3 linked regions of the Homo sapiens genome follow. The protein of the gene in region 2 purifies or fractionates together with the protein of the main gene of each other region. This does not show direct contact. Each region holds a gene or a part of one and is shown on either strand. Other genes may lie near its edges.

The links. Proteins that work in one complex are often made in the same cells at the same time.
Region 1: the proteins of AHSG (region 2) and POTEF purify together in Homo sapiens (affinity purification with mass spectrometry; 3 studies listed by BioGRID and IntAct, with this or other methods). This does not show direct contact.
Region 3: the proteins of AHSG (region 2) and PPP5C fractionate together in Homo sapiens (co-fractionation; one large-scale study listed by BioGRID). This does not show direct contact.

What each region holds. Positions count from the first base shown.
Region 1 is NC_000002.12:130,122,723-130,127,334, forward strand, and holds part of POTEF (POTE ankyrin domain family member F), read right to left. Parts: intron 1-4,612.
Region 2 is NC_000003.12:186,617,957-186,623,061, reverse strand, and holds the end of AHSG (alpha-2-HS-glycoprotein isoform 2 preproprotein), read right to left. Parts: intron 4,527-5,105; coding exon 4,425-4,526; intron 3,206-4,424; coding exon 3,122-3,205; intron 2,477-3,121; coding exon 2,132-2,476; 3' UTR 1,744-2,131; downstream 1-1,743. UniProt on the Homo sapiens protein: Promotes endocytosis, possesses opsonic properties and influences the mineral phase of bone. Shows affinity for calcium and barium ions.
Region 3 is NC_000019.10:46,383,975-46,388,280, forward strand, and holds part of PPP5C (serine/threonine-protein phosphatase 5), read left to right. Parts: intron 1-829; coding exon 830-935; intron 936-3,118; coding exon 3,119-3,261; intron 3,262-3,391; coding exon 3,392-3,479; intron 3,480-4,306. UniProt on the Homo sapiens protein: Serine/threonine-protein phosphatase that dephosphorylates a myriad of proteins involved in different signaling pathways including the kinases CSNK1E, ASK1/MAP3K5, PRKDC and RAF1, the nuclear receptors NR3C1, PPARG, ESR1 and ESR2, SMAD proteins and TAU/MAPT.

The DNA of each region.
Region 1 (4,612 bases), on a different chromosome or scaffold from region 2:
TCAGTATACAAATCGTTCACATCCTTCATTAAAATTACTCCTTGCTCTTTGATTTACTTATATATTTGTTTTGTTGCTATTATAAATGGAATTACCTTATTTTTCAGATAACAGTTTGTCATTGGTGTATAGAAGCCAATGTTAATTTTGTAACTCTCAACTTTATTGAATATAGTGTTTATCAGCTGTAATGGGTTTTTTGTGGAGTCTAAAACACAGACAATCTCACCCCTTCCCTTCCTATTTAGATGCCTTTCCTTTCTTTGCCTTGTATAATTACTCTGGCAAGTCAGTTACATATAACGTTCTCAGCATTTGTAATTTGACATCAAATCCATCTGTTGTAATACACTGATTGTTACTTTTCAACTCGAAAACATGGACATTTATCACTACTCTCCCTTTCTCTTGGTCTAGTTGTTATTTAAAAAAAAACCTATCAATGCAAACCAGGATATTTTTCTACAAAACAATTTCAAACACACTAAAAGGTTTTAATCTAACAATTTTTAAACTTTCTTTGTCAATGACTTTGAACTGTGGTCTCTCGGAACAAATCCAACACCTTTAGTAGAAAAATTATGTTAATTCCTACATTATCATTGGGTCTAGCCAAGAGTTGACCAAAGGTGATATTAACAGATATGCTTATTTATTACCTTGTTCTCAAAGTTCTAGCATAAGTCTTGAAAAATCTAGTAAAAATTTGTAAAGACTATAATTGCACAAACTCCCTCTCTCATGAGTCACACAGTTAATCCAGAATACTATTTCTAAGTTATTGGAAAGCCAACAAGTAAATATGATGTAGTGTATAAAAATAATCCTAATTTCATTGTATATTCTGTAAGTGACATATGCAATTGATACTATTTACTAAATATCTCATAATTATATTTATTTACATAGAAAAAAGGAATAAAAAACATATCTATTATCTAACATTTAAATGATTAAAAATACTTGAGATAGCATTGCTACATAAATGCTATGTAAATGCTGAAGAAAGTAAAAATGTCATTCCCTACATTTGCTAAATATATTGTGACACATTATAAGCATTTTTAAAATATATCACTAATGGTTGGGTCAAGTCAGCAAAAATGATTCTAAGTATTTAATTGTGGAAAAATTTAGTACAGGGGATAGTATTCATGTGATGGAAGGATTTTAAATGGAACCCAGAGATTAGCAGCAGCAGTAAGTTTTAATTGCATACCAGGTGCAGAGTCTAGGATACAAGACAGAACTGCAGATAAAATCTGACTCCTTCCAGCATAGCTAGGAGACATGGCTAACTCCACCTGTCCGGAGACCTTACCTAGAAATCTAACGGCTCCAAACCAGGTAAACAAAACTATTTTCCAAAGTCAAAGCATCAATTTATGACATTAAAGCACTTCTAAAACTTAACCTCTGACTTAAGTTAGACCAAATGGATAAATTTTGAAGATATTTTTATTTTACCACTGACTTTAACACCATCTTTATTTCCCAAAGATTACTGAAGTCACATGAAATAAAAGGCATTAGAGCTTCTATTTTTCTTACAAAATATTTAAGAGCTTTCATTTTCTTTTAAGCCGAGCCATTATATATACATCACATACACAACACTTCTAGACAAGAAAAGATCTAGCAGTTGTTCAGTTTTTCTTTCCCACTTTATGAATCATAACACAACTTCCACAGACTATCTACAACATGATTAAATTTATCTGACCTGTCCTGTATTTCCCTCTTTTGTAATTAGTCATTCTACTTTAGGACAACAATTTGCCATATAAGATCCTCTCTCATATAACATTTCTTTCCTTCATAACATTTCTTACAATAAATACATCTTCATATCCACAATTTTCTTTAGATCTCTCTCCCCTACTAATTTCTGATGCCCATCCAAACCAAAAAGGTCAGACAACGCAAGGCAAAACAGAGCAGAGCCTTAGATTTTTGAGAGGGACCTGTCTGCTTAAAGTTCTTGGGGTTCCATGAGGAAAACAGAGGTTTCTCCTAAAATGGGGTTTGTGGAACCTTCTGTTTTTCCTTAAGGAGTCCCAGGTTGTCAGAAATTACCTTAGATCCTCTCATGTGGGCATCAAGAGTGGCAACAAGAGAGACTGGGGTAATAATTCAGACAACTGAGCAGAAAAAGAAAAACTTACTACTGTCCCCACTGTAATGATGGATAAACTGAGGCACCATGCAGTTCAAAAATTCATGTTCACATAATTAGGATCCACAGCTCACTCTCTTAAATAATTTTGCCACCTCTATGCCCAGTCACTGATGCACCTGTATGGTAGCTCATGGCCCCCTTGGAACTTAGAACCTGGGTTTCATTCCTGCTCTACGGCTATATAATTCAACAATTTTCCTTTGAATTTGTTGGACTCTAACCCTGTATATCTCAAATTTTATTAGTATTACTGAATCTTAAAGGGAGCTGTGACGTCTTTAGTCTTTAGAAATATTAAACCTATAAACAAGGACTATATGAGGTTAAACAGTATTCAAATTTCTATATGCTTTAAAACATGGACACAATGTATTGAGAAACACACCTACAAAACTGCACCCCATCAACTCTGGACAAAAATTTAGATATTATCTCTTCAATATAACCTATCTAGTGGTATTTATACATATTCTTCCATGTATCAACGGTATATTACATGCTCATAACCTTAAAAATAACAAGTGTTCAAATTATAGGCCTTACACATTTCTACGGGCTTGAAAAATGATACAATATAGATTGTCTTTAAAGCAGTCAAGAAAATGCATAAACTTCTAGAGGAATCAGTAAAATAAAGATAAAAAGTTCACACCTAAAGTAGTAATACTAGGAATAAAAGAGGGCTCGACACTGCAGGTTCTTAGATACAAAAGTTAATAAAGCCTTGTTTTTGGTTGTGAATCTTTGCCTTAAAATACACACAGCTGACCGAGGTGGGTGGATCACCTGAGGTCAGGTGTTCTAGGCCAGCCTGGCCAACAGGGTGAAACCCCATCTCTACTAAAAATACAAAAAGTAGCCGGGCGTGGTGGCAGGCACCTATAATCCCAGCTACTCAGGGGGCCAAGGCAGGAGAACTGCTTTCACCCAGGAGGCAGGGGTTGCAGTGAGCCAAGATCGGGCCATCGTACTACAGCCTGGGGGACAAGAGCGAGACTTCATCTCAAAAAAAAAAAAAATTACACACAATTCTCCCGACTTCCTTTTTCTCTTGCAAAGAGGTGGTGATGAACCAGGTTTGCTCAGGCAGATGACAATACTCTTGAAAATGGTGGCAGAGAGCCAGGCGTGGTGGCTCACACCTCCAATCCCAGCACTTTGGGAAGCTGAGACAGGTGGATCACTTGAAGTCGGGAGTTCAAGACCAGCCTGACCAACATAGAGAAAACCCATCTCTATTAAAAACACAAAGTTAGCTGGGCATGGTGGCACATGCCTGCAATCCCAGTTACTCAGGAGGCTGAGGCAGGAGACTTGCTTGAACCCAGGAAGCGGAGGTTGCAGTGAGCCGAGATCGCCCCATTGCACTCCAGCCTGGGCAACAAGAGCAAAACTCCATCTCAAAAAAAAAAAAAAAAAAAAAGAAAGAAAACAAAGGAAATGGTGGCAGAGAAAATGAAGGCAATACAGTTCACTTAATAATCTCATAAATTAGAACTTACCCCGTGACTCCTGCATAGCTCCAAATATGTGAGAGAGATGAAATGGCTGTTTGCCACCAATATTTTTATGTGATGCTTCATTTTTTGATTCTCTGAATAACTACTTACAACGCATTAGCCCATTTATGCCAGAGGCTGCAATTTTTTGAATTTTTGCACGAGTGAAAAATCAAACCTTCTAATGACCTTGAGCAGTAGGATGTAATTAACTCCCTCATGCTTACCATTCCAATAATGGAACACTAGGCATAAGTGGTTTAACACAATCGTGAAAGCATAGCTATTCAAGTAACTAATTATACAACTGATTTTTTTCCTCATCCCTAAAACATAGTAAAGGACCAGTTATTTTAAAAATACAACACAGTGACAATTTTGGCTTGTTGTTTGTTAAGGCCATTGCTTGGCATAAAGAAAACAAAAAGAGGAGGAGAAACAAGAATAGAAACATGAAATAGAAGCAGCAGCAAAAGAAAATGAAGAGGAACAAGAAGATGAGAAGAATACACAGACTAGAATAAGCAAAAAGAACAGGTGCAGGAATTAGAAGGCCTATTATGACACCTTTTATCCCCTCCCCAATTCACAAAATTTGAAAAAGTCCAAGACCATCACAACAAAAAAGAAGGAAAAAATGGCCGGGAGTGGTGGCTCACGCCTATAATCCTAGCACTTTGGGAGGCCAAGGTGGGTGGATCATGAGGTCAGGTGATCTAGACCATCCTGGCTAACACTGTGAAACCCCATCTCTACTAAAAATACAAAAATAAAATTGGCTGGGCGTGGTGGCAGGCGCCTGTAGTCCCAGCTACTAGGGAGGCTGAGGCAGGAGGATGGTGTGAACCCAGGAAGCAGAGCTTGCAGTGAGCCGAGATCACACCACGGCACTCCAGCCTGGGCAAAAGAGCGAGACTCTGTCTCAAAAAAAAAA
Region 2 (5,105 bases):
GAAGCAGCTTGGCTCAGGTTTTGCAGGTCTATGTGACTTCACTGCTTCTTTGAGAGACATGAGATCAAGGCATGCATTAGCCAGACACAGAAAAATAGACATAGAAAAATCATCTGCACGAATTTTAAGTTGGAGAGGAGGGAAACTGAGGTAATGCAAATGAAACAAACTAGAATTCACTGCCTCAGTAAATGCCCCCCCCCCACACACACACACACATCTATCCAGTTCACAAAGCCACAAATCCAGGAATCATCATCCTTCACGTCTTTCTCACTCCCATATCAAATTCATCAGCAGGTCTTGGGAGTTCTACCTCCAAATTATAACCTCTTTTTATCATGTCCACTGCCCACCACCTTAGACCAACTCATGTTAATCTTTTCTCTAGAAAGCTCTAGTGACTTTCTATCCTGTGGCTACTCTTGCCCAGCTACAGCCCACTCTCCAGTCTCCCTACAGCAACAACACCAGTAAACTCTTGACAACCAGGATGCCCCTAGAGCAACTGCATCTGCCAGTGGTCACCATGACCTCAGAGTCAGTCGTCCTTACTGCTCTTTCTACAGCATTTAGCACAGCTGCCCATAGCTTCTTCTCTGGCTTCCGTGACACCTAGTGGTTTTCTTACCTTTCTGGCCTTTCCTTTTGGTTACTGGAATATTGGCAAAACCTCTAGGCACAAGTGATAAGGTGAGTGTCAACACTTGATTCATTCTCCTTGGTTTAAAGTGAAGTCACTCAACTGGGTGTCAGTCCTGCCCTCTAAAATTCCATCTGAAAGGGCCCATCACTGAGGTAGATCGGAAAAACTTAATGCTGATGGACAAAAATTGAAATTGCCCAGGGACCATGCTAAAATGGGGAGGGTTTATTCACATATGCTATCTGAGCACTTGGACGGTGTCTACAAATGTCCACGGGATTCACCTGTCCAGGCATCCTTTATCTAATGATACTACAAGTCACAGCTTTAACTTGGGTCCTTAAAATAGATTGGCTAGGAAGACCAATCTTGTGTTATAAAATGAAGTGTATACAGTACACTCAACGTATATCTTAAACATAATTAACAACAGATATAAAGTGAGGATCTTGTTTTAATTACCAATCCCTCCTTACCTCGGTACTGGAGAAAATCAATGGATAGTTTATTCTGTACAAAGTTCAGGAGCTTGGCCCACCTTTAGCAATATTTTCTCTCTCTTATAAAATGAGAAGAATTATTTTCTCATAAAGAAATGGTCATATCTTGGCCAGGTGCGGTGGCTCACGCCTGTAATCCCAGCACTTTGGGAGGCCGAGGTGGGTGGATCATGAGTTGAGGAGATCAAGACCATCCTGGCCAACATGGTGAAACCCTGTCTCCACTAAAATAAAAAAAATTAGCTGGGTGTGGTGGCACGCACCTGTAGTCCCAGCTACTCAGGGGGCTGAGGCAGGGGAATCATTTGAATTTGGGAGGTGGAGCTTGCAGTGAGCCAAGATCATGCCACTGCGCTCCAGCCTGGGTGACAGAGTAAGACTCCGTCTCAGAAAAAAAAAAAAAAAGAAATGGTCACATCTTATGGGTTGTGGAAAGATCCTAGTCTCACTTTTTCCTGTATCTGGCAATACAGCAGGTTTTTGTTCTCTTTTGGTTCTCTTTTCACTTTGATTTTGATTAGGGACACTGTGTTTGTTGGGGTAAAAGGCTATGCATGTGAGGGGAGCTGGGATGAAGTCGCAATAAGCATGACCACATTCAGCTTAGAACCTTCTTTATTAAGGAAGGTCTTTCAGGCACTTTCATTAACAGGCACATATAAGCTTAGCAAGAGCACCTTTCAAAGTCACAGTTCCAATGGTTTTTGTAAGGTCAACCAGAGGCAGAGAACACAATCATGGTGGCTTACCGTCAAAATCATGACAAGTTGTCAACCTAATGCCTTCTGTCAAACATAACCACCACCCACTCTGCTTCTGTCCTGTGAGGAATGACGGGAAGTAGGGAGTCAAGACTTGATATTAATGTAGATCGCATGTGACACTTGCGTGGCCAGCAGACAAGGCCCCCCACCCATGCCCAGGCTTGGACAAAATGGTGGCTATGTTTTCTGTGCCAAACCTCCTCATCTCTGCCATGTCTAGCCTAGACCTTGAAGTGTCTGATCCTCCCCGGACATGGAGGAACCACTGGCCCAGCAGCAGCACCAACACTAGGCTGCACCACTGTGCGTGTTTTCCGGGGGTGCGACACTTCTCCTGAGGGTGACCCCAATGAGACCACACCCATGAAGGTGTGGCGCAGGTCGTAGTGCGCCCGGTGCAACTGGTGTCCTGGAGGAGCTGCCAGTAACACATGGGAGTCTGGGGGTGAGCCAGCTGGAGGGAGTCCAGGTGCGCCAAGTGGAGGGGACGGAGGTGCATCTGGGTCCACCACGGGTGTGGGGACTGCTTCATTGGCACCTTCTGGTTGGGGCTGTGAGCTCACGGGCTGGAAAAAGGACCATTTCCTTCAGTTAGTTTGCTTCCTCCTCCCAGGCAAGACAACCCACAGGCCCAGGTGGCACTGGCACCCAATTTCCTCACATTATACATTTTTATTTGCAAAGAGTCTAGCAAGAAAGGACCTACCCAAGTACAAGGGATTGTCATCAAGGTTACAAGGAGGGGTGACTGGCCTATGTTGGCCCCGGCCTCACTAGGATTGTCTTTGTGATGGTGGACTTACACGCATATGTCCAATGAGTAAAAGCACCCCACCTATGGCTCACCCTTGCCCAGCAGTGCCACCCTCTTTGTCATCTGAAGCTGCAGCCACTGGGAGCTAACAGGTAGATCTGGCCACCTGGTCTCTGCAACTCAGAAAACCACTCCCACCTCCCACAAATAAAAAGGTGGCTTTGTCAACTACACAGTAAGATGGTTCTTCCCTGTAGTCACTAGTTCGTGGGAGGGAAAGGCATAGCTAAAATATCCTTCCATTTGTTGATGATTCCGCATACCCCAGTGTTATTTCATACTGTGAGATTCAGAAGCACAGGAGAGCAAATGTCCTGTCATCACTACTGCACTGCATAAATGTGAAGGGGTCATTGTATTCTGAAGGTGTAGGCAAGAATATTCACGGAGCTGTTACCTGTGTTTGGAACACCATGCAGGTCACTGCAACCTCTGCCCCACCAAGCTTCTCACTGAGTGTTGCCTTACAAAAGCCATATTGCTGCCCACAGAGAAAGAGGATTTATTTTAACTAATTTCAAAAATGGATCCCCCCCAATTTCATTGACGCGCCAACCTTAAATTAGTTTGAAAAACCATTTTTCTTAAAGTTATAGTTTCTGCTTGTGGGAGGTATATGATTCTATATATAACATGGAAATACAGAAATACTTTGAGAGTGAGAGAGATTACCCATAATCCCTTTCTGGTGGTGGCCTAGAAAGAAGGACTGTTAACATTGATGCATTTCTTTCTTATTTTAAAATACTATTAAATATGATTTAAAAATTGAGATCATTGTGACTATACGATGTTGTATCCTGTGTGTTTTCACTTGCCATAATAGCATTTTCTCATATCATTCATTATTCCTTGAAAACACAATTTTTAGTGTCTGCACAATTTTCTATTTACTGATGTGCATGGATTATTCAATGACACCTTCCTGTTGGACATACAGATCTCTCTTTTTTGGTCTCTTTATATCCATAATAAATCATTTTTATAGATATATTCTGTCAAATGTCACTGATGAATTCTTTTTCTTTTTCTTTTTTTCTTGAGACAGAGTCTCGTTCTGTTGCCCAGGCTGGAGTGCAGTGGCACGATCTTAGTTTACTGCAACATCTGCCTCCTGGGTTCACACCATTCTCCTGCCTCAGCCTCCCGAGTAGCTGGGACTACAGGCGCTCACCACCAAGCCTGGCTAATTTTTTTGTATTTTTAGTAGAGACGGGGTTTCACCATGTTAGCCAGGATGGTCTCGATCTCCTGACCTCCCGATCCACCCGTCTTGGCCTCCCAAAGTGCTGGAATTACAGGCATGAGCCATCATGCCTGGCCACTGATGACTTCTTTAGACTAAAATCCTAGAAGTGTACATTATTGGCTCAAGGACTTGAAAGCTTTTGTATCAGAGTTATATGTCTAGAAAATGTGCACTTCACATTCCCAGTGGGTGGGCGTGACTTGGCTTCATTAGCAAATAGCCTCTCTCTTTCTCCTAACTTCATGTGCTTCCAGTGGGTGAGATGATTTGATGACAGCTCTTAAAGGGATGAGGTGACACCCTAAAAGAAGGCTTGCCGTGATCCACAGGGAGAGGGGATTTGCACTGTTATTCTCTGTCTGCAGCCCCAAGATACAAACTATCCAAGGATGTTCTGTTCCACAAACAGCTCTGTCCGAGTGGTAACACCCCAAGGTCCCGGCCCACTCACCTTTTCTGCCAGCAGGTTACACTTGGCTGCCTCTGTGGCCTCTTTAGCAACACAGTCAGTGCCAGACACTGTAAACTCCACATAGGTAGAAGGTGGGAGGGGCTGAGAAGAGTACATGAAAATGCTCTTGAGGAAAGATGACTTACAATGAAAAGGGCAGAGAAGGAGAGCGGGAAGTAGCCTCCTTCGGGGAGCACCATTCATGCAGACCATGCGTCGGCCCAGAAGACATGTCCCTCAATGGCTTACATAGGGCAGTTGCTATGGGGTTGTGTTCTCAAGTGCTTGTGCTTTAGAGGTAGGGGTTGTGTCTTCCTTGTAGGAGGGGCAAGTATCCATCACCGGTCCTTCAGGGTGGAGGTGAGTTTGCAGATAGGAAACCGGAATCAGAAGGCCAGCATTAGACTGATAGGAGTGGGAACCCTGCCTCCCCCCAGCCCTCACTCTTGGGCTGCACTTGATACCCAAGGTTCAGGTTATTCCAAAATAGGGTGGGAAAGTGAAGAGATTAATACCTCTTCCACCTGTTTCATAGAGCAGGCTCAAATGAAAAGATTTAGATGAAAGTATGGAAGATATCACTTGAGCTTTTCTTTTTTAAAGTAGTTGGAGCATATGGACACAATAAAATATCTGTTATTTGGTGTAGTCTGGGGTGGGGATGTTCTGAGAATCACATAT
Region 3 (4,306 bases), on a different chromosome or scaffold from region 2:
GTGACCTTGGAAAGGAGAGGCCTGGCCATGCTGGGGCACCAAGGTGTGGGTGGAGCTGCAGGCTGGCCATGCACCCCAGGCTCCAGGCTCGGACAGGCCTGGGCCAGCACCCACCTGCTGTGTGACCTAAGCTGGTAGCTCAGTCTCTCTGGGTCTTGGCTTGTCTTCGTCTGCCTCAGGATCACATTTGAATGGCACCTGGCACTGGCCACACTTGGGTTCCATCCTGGCTTTGCCACTTCCCAGCTGTGTGACCGAAGCAGGTTACTTCACTGCTTGGTGTCACAGTTTCCCCATTTGCAAAGAGGGATAATAATATGTGCAACCTTGTTACTCAGCAGTTACTGAGAGGACAGGTTAAGAACAGGGCCTGGCCCACACCTGATGCTATCTAAGTATTTCCCCGTGTTATGGTATCTGCTCGATGAACGGCCACTTGTAGGGCCACTAGGCCTATGCATTGTTGAGTGGGAGGGCCCGTGTCCCATCTCCCCCATGGCTCCAGGCCTCTCTGAGGAGAGCTGAAGGAGGTGGACTGACTAGTCCCCGCACCTCCCCGCCACTGGCTTTCCGGGAGACAGGAGGCAGGGTCCTCAGTGCCATACTACTGAGGCTCAGCGGCCAAGCTCTGGCTGGAGCCACGGTGAGGAAAGGATTAGAAACCCAGATCCCTTGAGCCCTGCCAAGTCCTCACTCCCTGGGAGGTGCTGACAGGAGGCTTGAGGCCAGGCAGGAGCAGCCCATCTGGCCCATCTTCTGCCACCACCCCCAACCCCACCGCACCGCACCCTTCCCCTCCACGCTTGCCATGTTTTCCTCAGCAGGACAGATATTTAATGGTGACTTTGTGGACCGAGGCTCCTTCTCTGTAGAAGTGATCCTCACCCTTTTCGGCTTCAAGCTCCTGTACCCAGATCACTTTCACCTCCTTCGAGGTGAGCTGGGAAGTGACAAGGTTTGGGTTCATTGTGGGGTCCTGAGTGGGGCACTCACTCTGCAAGGATAATAGTTGCAGCTGTATTTATTTTGTGGACTCGGAGATCATGCACAGGGCGACCTTTTAAGATTGAGTATGTAGTGCACTGCACAAAAGCATCACACCAAAGGACGCGTTTACATCATAGATAGTGTAGAAATGGATGTTTACTCTGACCATTTTTCAGCAGATGGCAAACAAGGGTGTGAGGATGGGCCCCTTATTCTAATTTGCACAAGGGCATGAAACAGGCTCCTGGGTGGCCCTAAATCTGGCACTAAAGCTGAGTGACTGAGTGAACAGACCAGGGCTCGAGGGTGGGAGTAAGGAGACTGTTGACGAGGCAGTTGTGCCCCCTCAGATTCAGGCTTGGTGTCAGATTTGGGTTCTCTTGATTGAAGTAGAGCCCGGAGCTGAGTGTGCTGGTTCACACCTGTAATCCCAGCACTTTGGAAGGCCCAGGTAGGAGGATCACTTCAGCCCAGGAGTTTGAGACCAGCCTGGGCAACACAGTGAGACTTTGTCTCCAGTAAACATTTTTTAAAAAGGCCAGGCGCAGTGGCTCATGCCTGTAATCCCAGCATTTTGGGAGGCCAAGGCAGGTGGATCATCTGAGGTCAAGAGTTCGAAACCAGCCTGTCCAATGTGGTGAAACCCCGTCTCTACTAAAAATACAAAAATTAGCCGGGCATGGTGGTACACGCCTGTAATCCCAGCTGCCTGGGAGGCTGAGGCAGGAGAATCGCTTGAACCCAGGAGGCACATGTTGCAATGAGCCGAGATTGCGCCACTGCACTCCAGCCTAGTCGATAGAGTGAGACTCAGTCTAAAAAAAAAAAAAAAAGCCAGGCATGGTGGCACCGTGCACCCGTAGTCCCAGCTTCTTGGGTGGCCAAAGTGGAAGGATTGCTTGAGCCCAGGAGTGTAAGGCTGCAGTGAGCCATGATCACACCGCTGCACTCCAGCGTGGGCAACAGAGCAAGACCCTGTCTCTTTGAAAAAAAAAAAAAAAGTAAGAAACTTGGAAGTAGAGCCCAGAGTATTTGCTGGAGGAACAGACACAGGTGTGAGACAAAGAGGGAACGAAAGGGGCCCTCTAGGGTTTTGGCCGGAGTATCTGGAGGGCTATGGCTGCCAGTGACGAAGACGGGAACATGTAGAGCAGGGTGTGGCCAGGAGCTGAGGAGCTCCCCTTTGGATGTGGCTGAGACTCAGGAGACATGGGATGTGGGTGGGGTTCCAAGGGGTGTTGAAAATGTAGGTTTCTTGGTGTCCAGATGAGATTAGACAAGAGGAGCTCACTGGGATGTGAGGGCCACACAGGGGAGGCCCTGCCCATGGCGGGGCCGGGGTGAGTTGGGAGGTGAGTGATAGGCTGGGGCGAAGCCTGCATGCCCGTGTCCCTGGGCTCACAGGGTTCACGCAGCAGTGTCCAGCACAGGGTCAAAGCTCAGGAAGCCCGACTGTGGGCCTCGTTGCAGGAGGCAACAAGTGCTCAGGCCGAGAAGTCAGACAAGCAGAGTCTGAGCAGATGCGAGACTGGGCAGCCTTCTCCTTGCCCCCAAGCTCTGGAAGGGAAGAAGGAGGCCGGGTGCTTGTGTCTGAGACAGAAGGATGGAGCTCAGGGTGGGGTGGGCTGGGGCACATGTTCTGTAGATGGGCCTACTTTTTGGTTTTGAGACGGTCTTGCTTTGCTCTGTTGCCCAGGCTGGAGTGCAGTAGCATGAGCATAGCTCACTGCAGCCTCTGCTTCGTGGGCTCAAGTGATCCTCTGGCCTCAGCCTCCCAAGTAGCTGGCACTATAGGCACGCACCACCATGCCCAGCTAATTTTTAAAATTGTTTTATAGAGAGGTCTCAGTATATTGCCCAGGCTGGTCTCAAATTGCTGGGCTCAAGCAGTTCTGCCTTGGCTTCCCAAAGTGCTGGAATTATAGGCGTGAGCCATGGTGCTTAGCCATGGACCTACTTTTTGTCAAGATTCCCCCCTTGGTACCTCCAGTCTGGAAGGCACCGCAGTGGCAAGTGCGAGGCCCATGGGGGCAAGGGACGCATGCACAGTTCTGGGCCTTGAGGGTGCCAGGCTGGAGGACACTGATGTACCTGGAGGCTGAGCTTTCTCTTCTGTCCCCGTGTTGGCCAGGCAACCACGAGACAGACAACATGAACCAGATCTACGGTTTCGAGGGTGAGGTGAAGGCCAAGTACACAGCCCAGATGTACGAGCTCTTTAGCGAGGTGTTCGAGTGGCTCCCGTTGGCCCAGTGCATCAACGGCAAAGTGCTGGTGAGGACGGCGCGAGCCCTGAGTGTGGGTTCCCCACCCAGCCACACCTGGGCAGATGTGCTGGTGAAGGAAGTTGGGGCCTGTGGGTGGGTGGCACCTTCCCTCACAGCGGCATCCCCCATCTCCCCAGATCATGCACGGAGGCCTGTTCAGTGAAGACGGTGTCACCCTGGATGACATCCGGAAAATTGAGCGGAATCGACAACCCCCAGATTCAGGTGAGCAGCGCGGGGCCAGGTGTCTCCAGCAGAAAGGGGCAGCCTGGGCTGAGCTCTCCCCTGCAACCCAGCCCTGCCTCGGAGGATGGGCTTTGTGCCCTTGGCAAGAAACAGCGGGTCTGAGCCTCAGTTTCCTCACCTGCGACTTGGGCCAGTGCACCTCCTTCATGGGGCTGTGATGGCAAGCACGGTCGTGACCATGGTGCGGGGTGAAGGCACGGTGACCGCCGAGCACACCTGTCCTTATTTATTTGTGAGTTCAGCTGTGGAACCCTGGAAGGAGGGGAGGTCTTGGGGCTCCTGTGCTAGTGACGGGCACACTTCAGAGAGTTCACCCACAGGTGCACACGCACGTGCACACTGTGAGTGCTGCAGAGGACATGGATTGGGTGGGCTGGTGCTGGGTGCTCAGGAAGGCCTCTCCAGGGAGGCGAGGTTTGAGCTGACACTGCGGGAAGCAGAGGCATCTGCCGTGCACAGAGCCTGGCGAGCATATTCCAGGCTTGAGGAGGGGTCCTAAGGCAGGGAGAAGTTGGCGAGTGGGCAGGGCTGTGCTTTGAGGGCTGACATTGGACATGGGGTTCACTGGGCCCAAATCCTATGGCGCTTTACAGGCCCCAGTGAGGAACTTTGTTCCTAGGGCAGTGCGGAGCCACCAAAGGCTTTGAGTGGGAGAGGGGCCTGATCTGAATAGTGACATTGAAAGCTCTATCTGGCTTCGGGGCCACAGGGGATTGAATGGGGTCTGGAGGGCAGATCAGCAGAGAGGGTGGGGGTGGCTCAGAATCACAGTCACCTGTCCTGAATGTCCATGTCCATGCTGGATG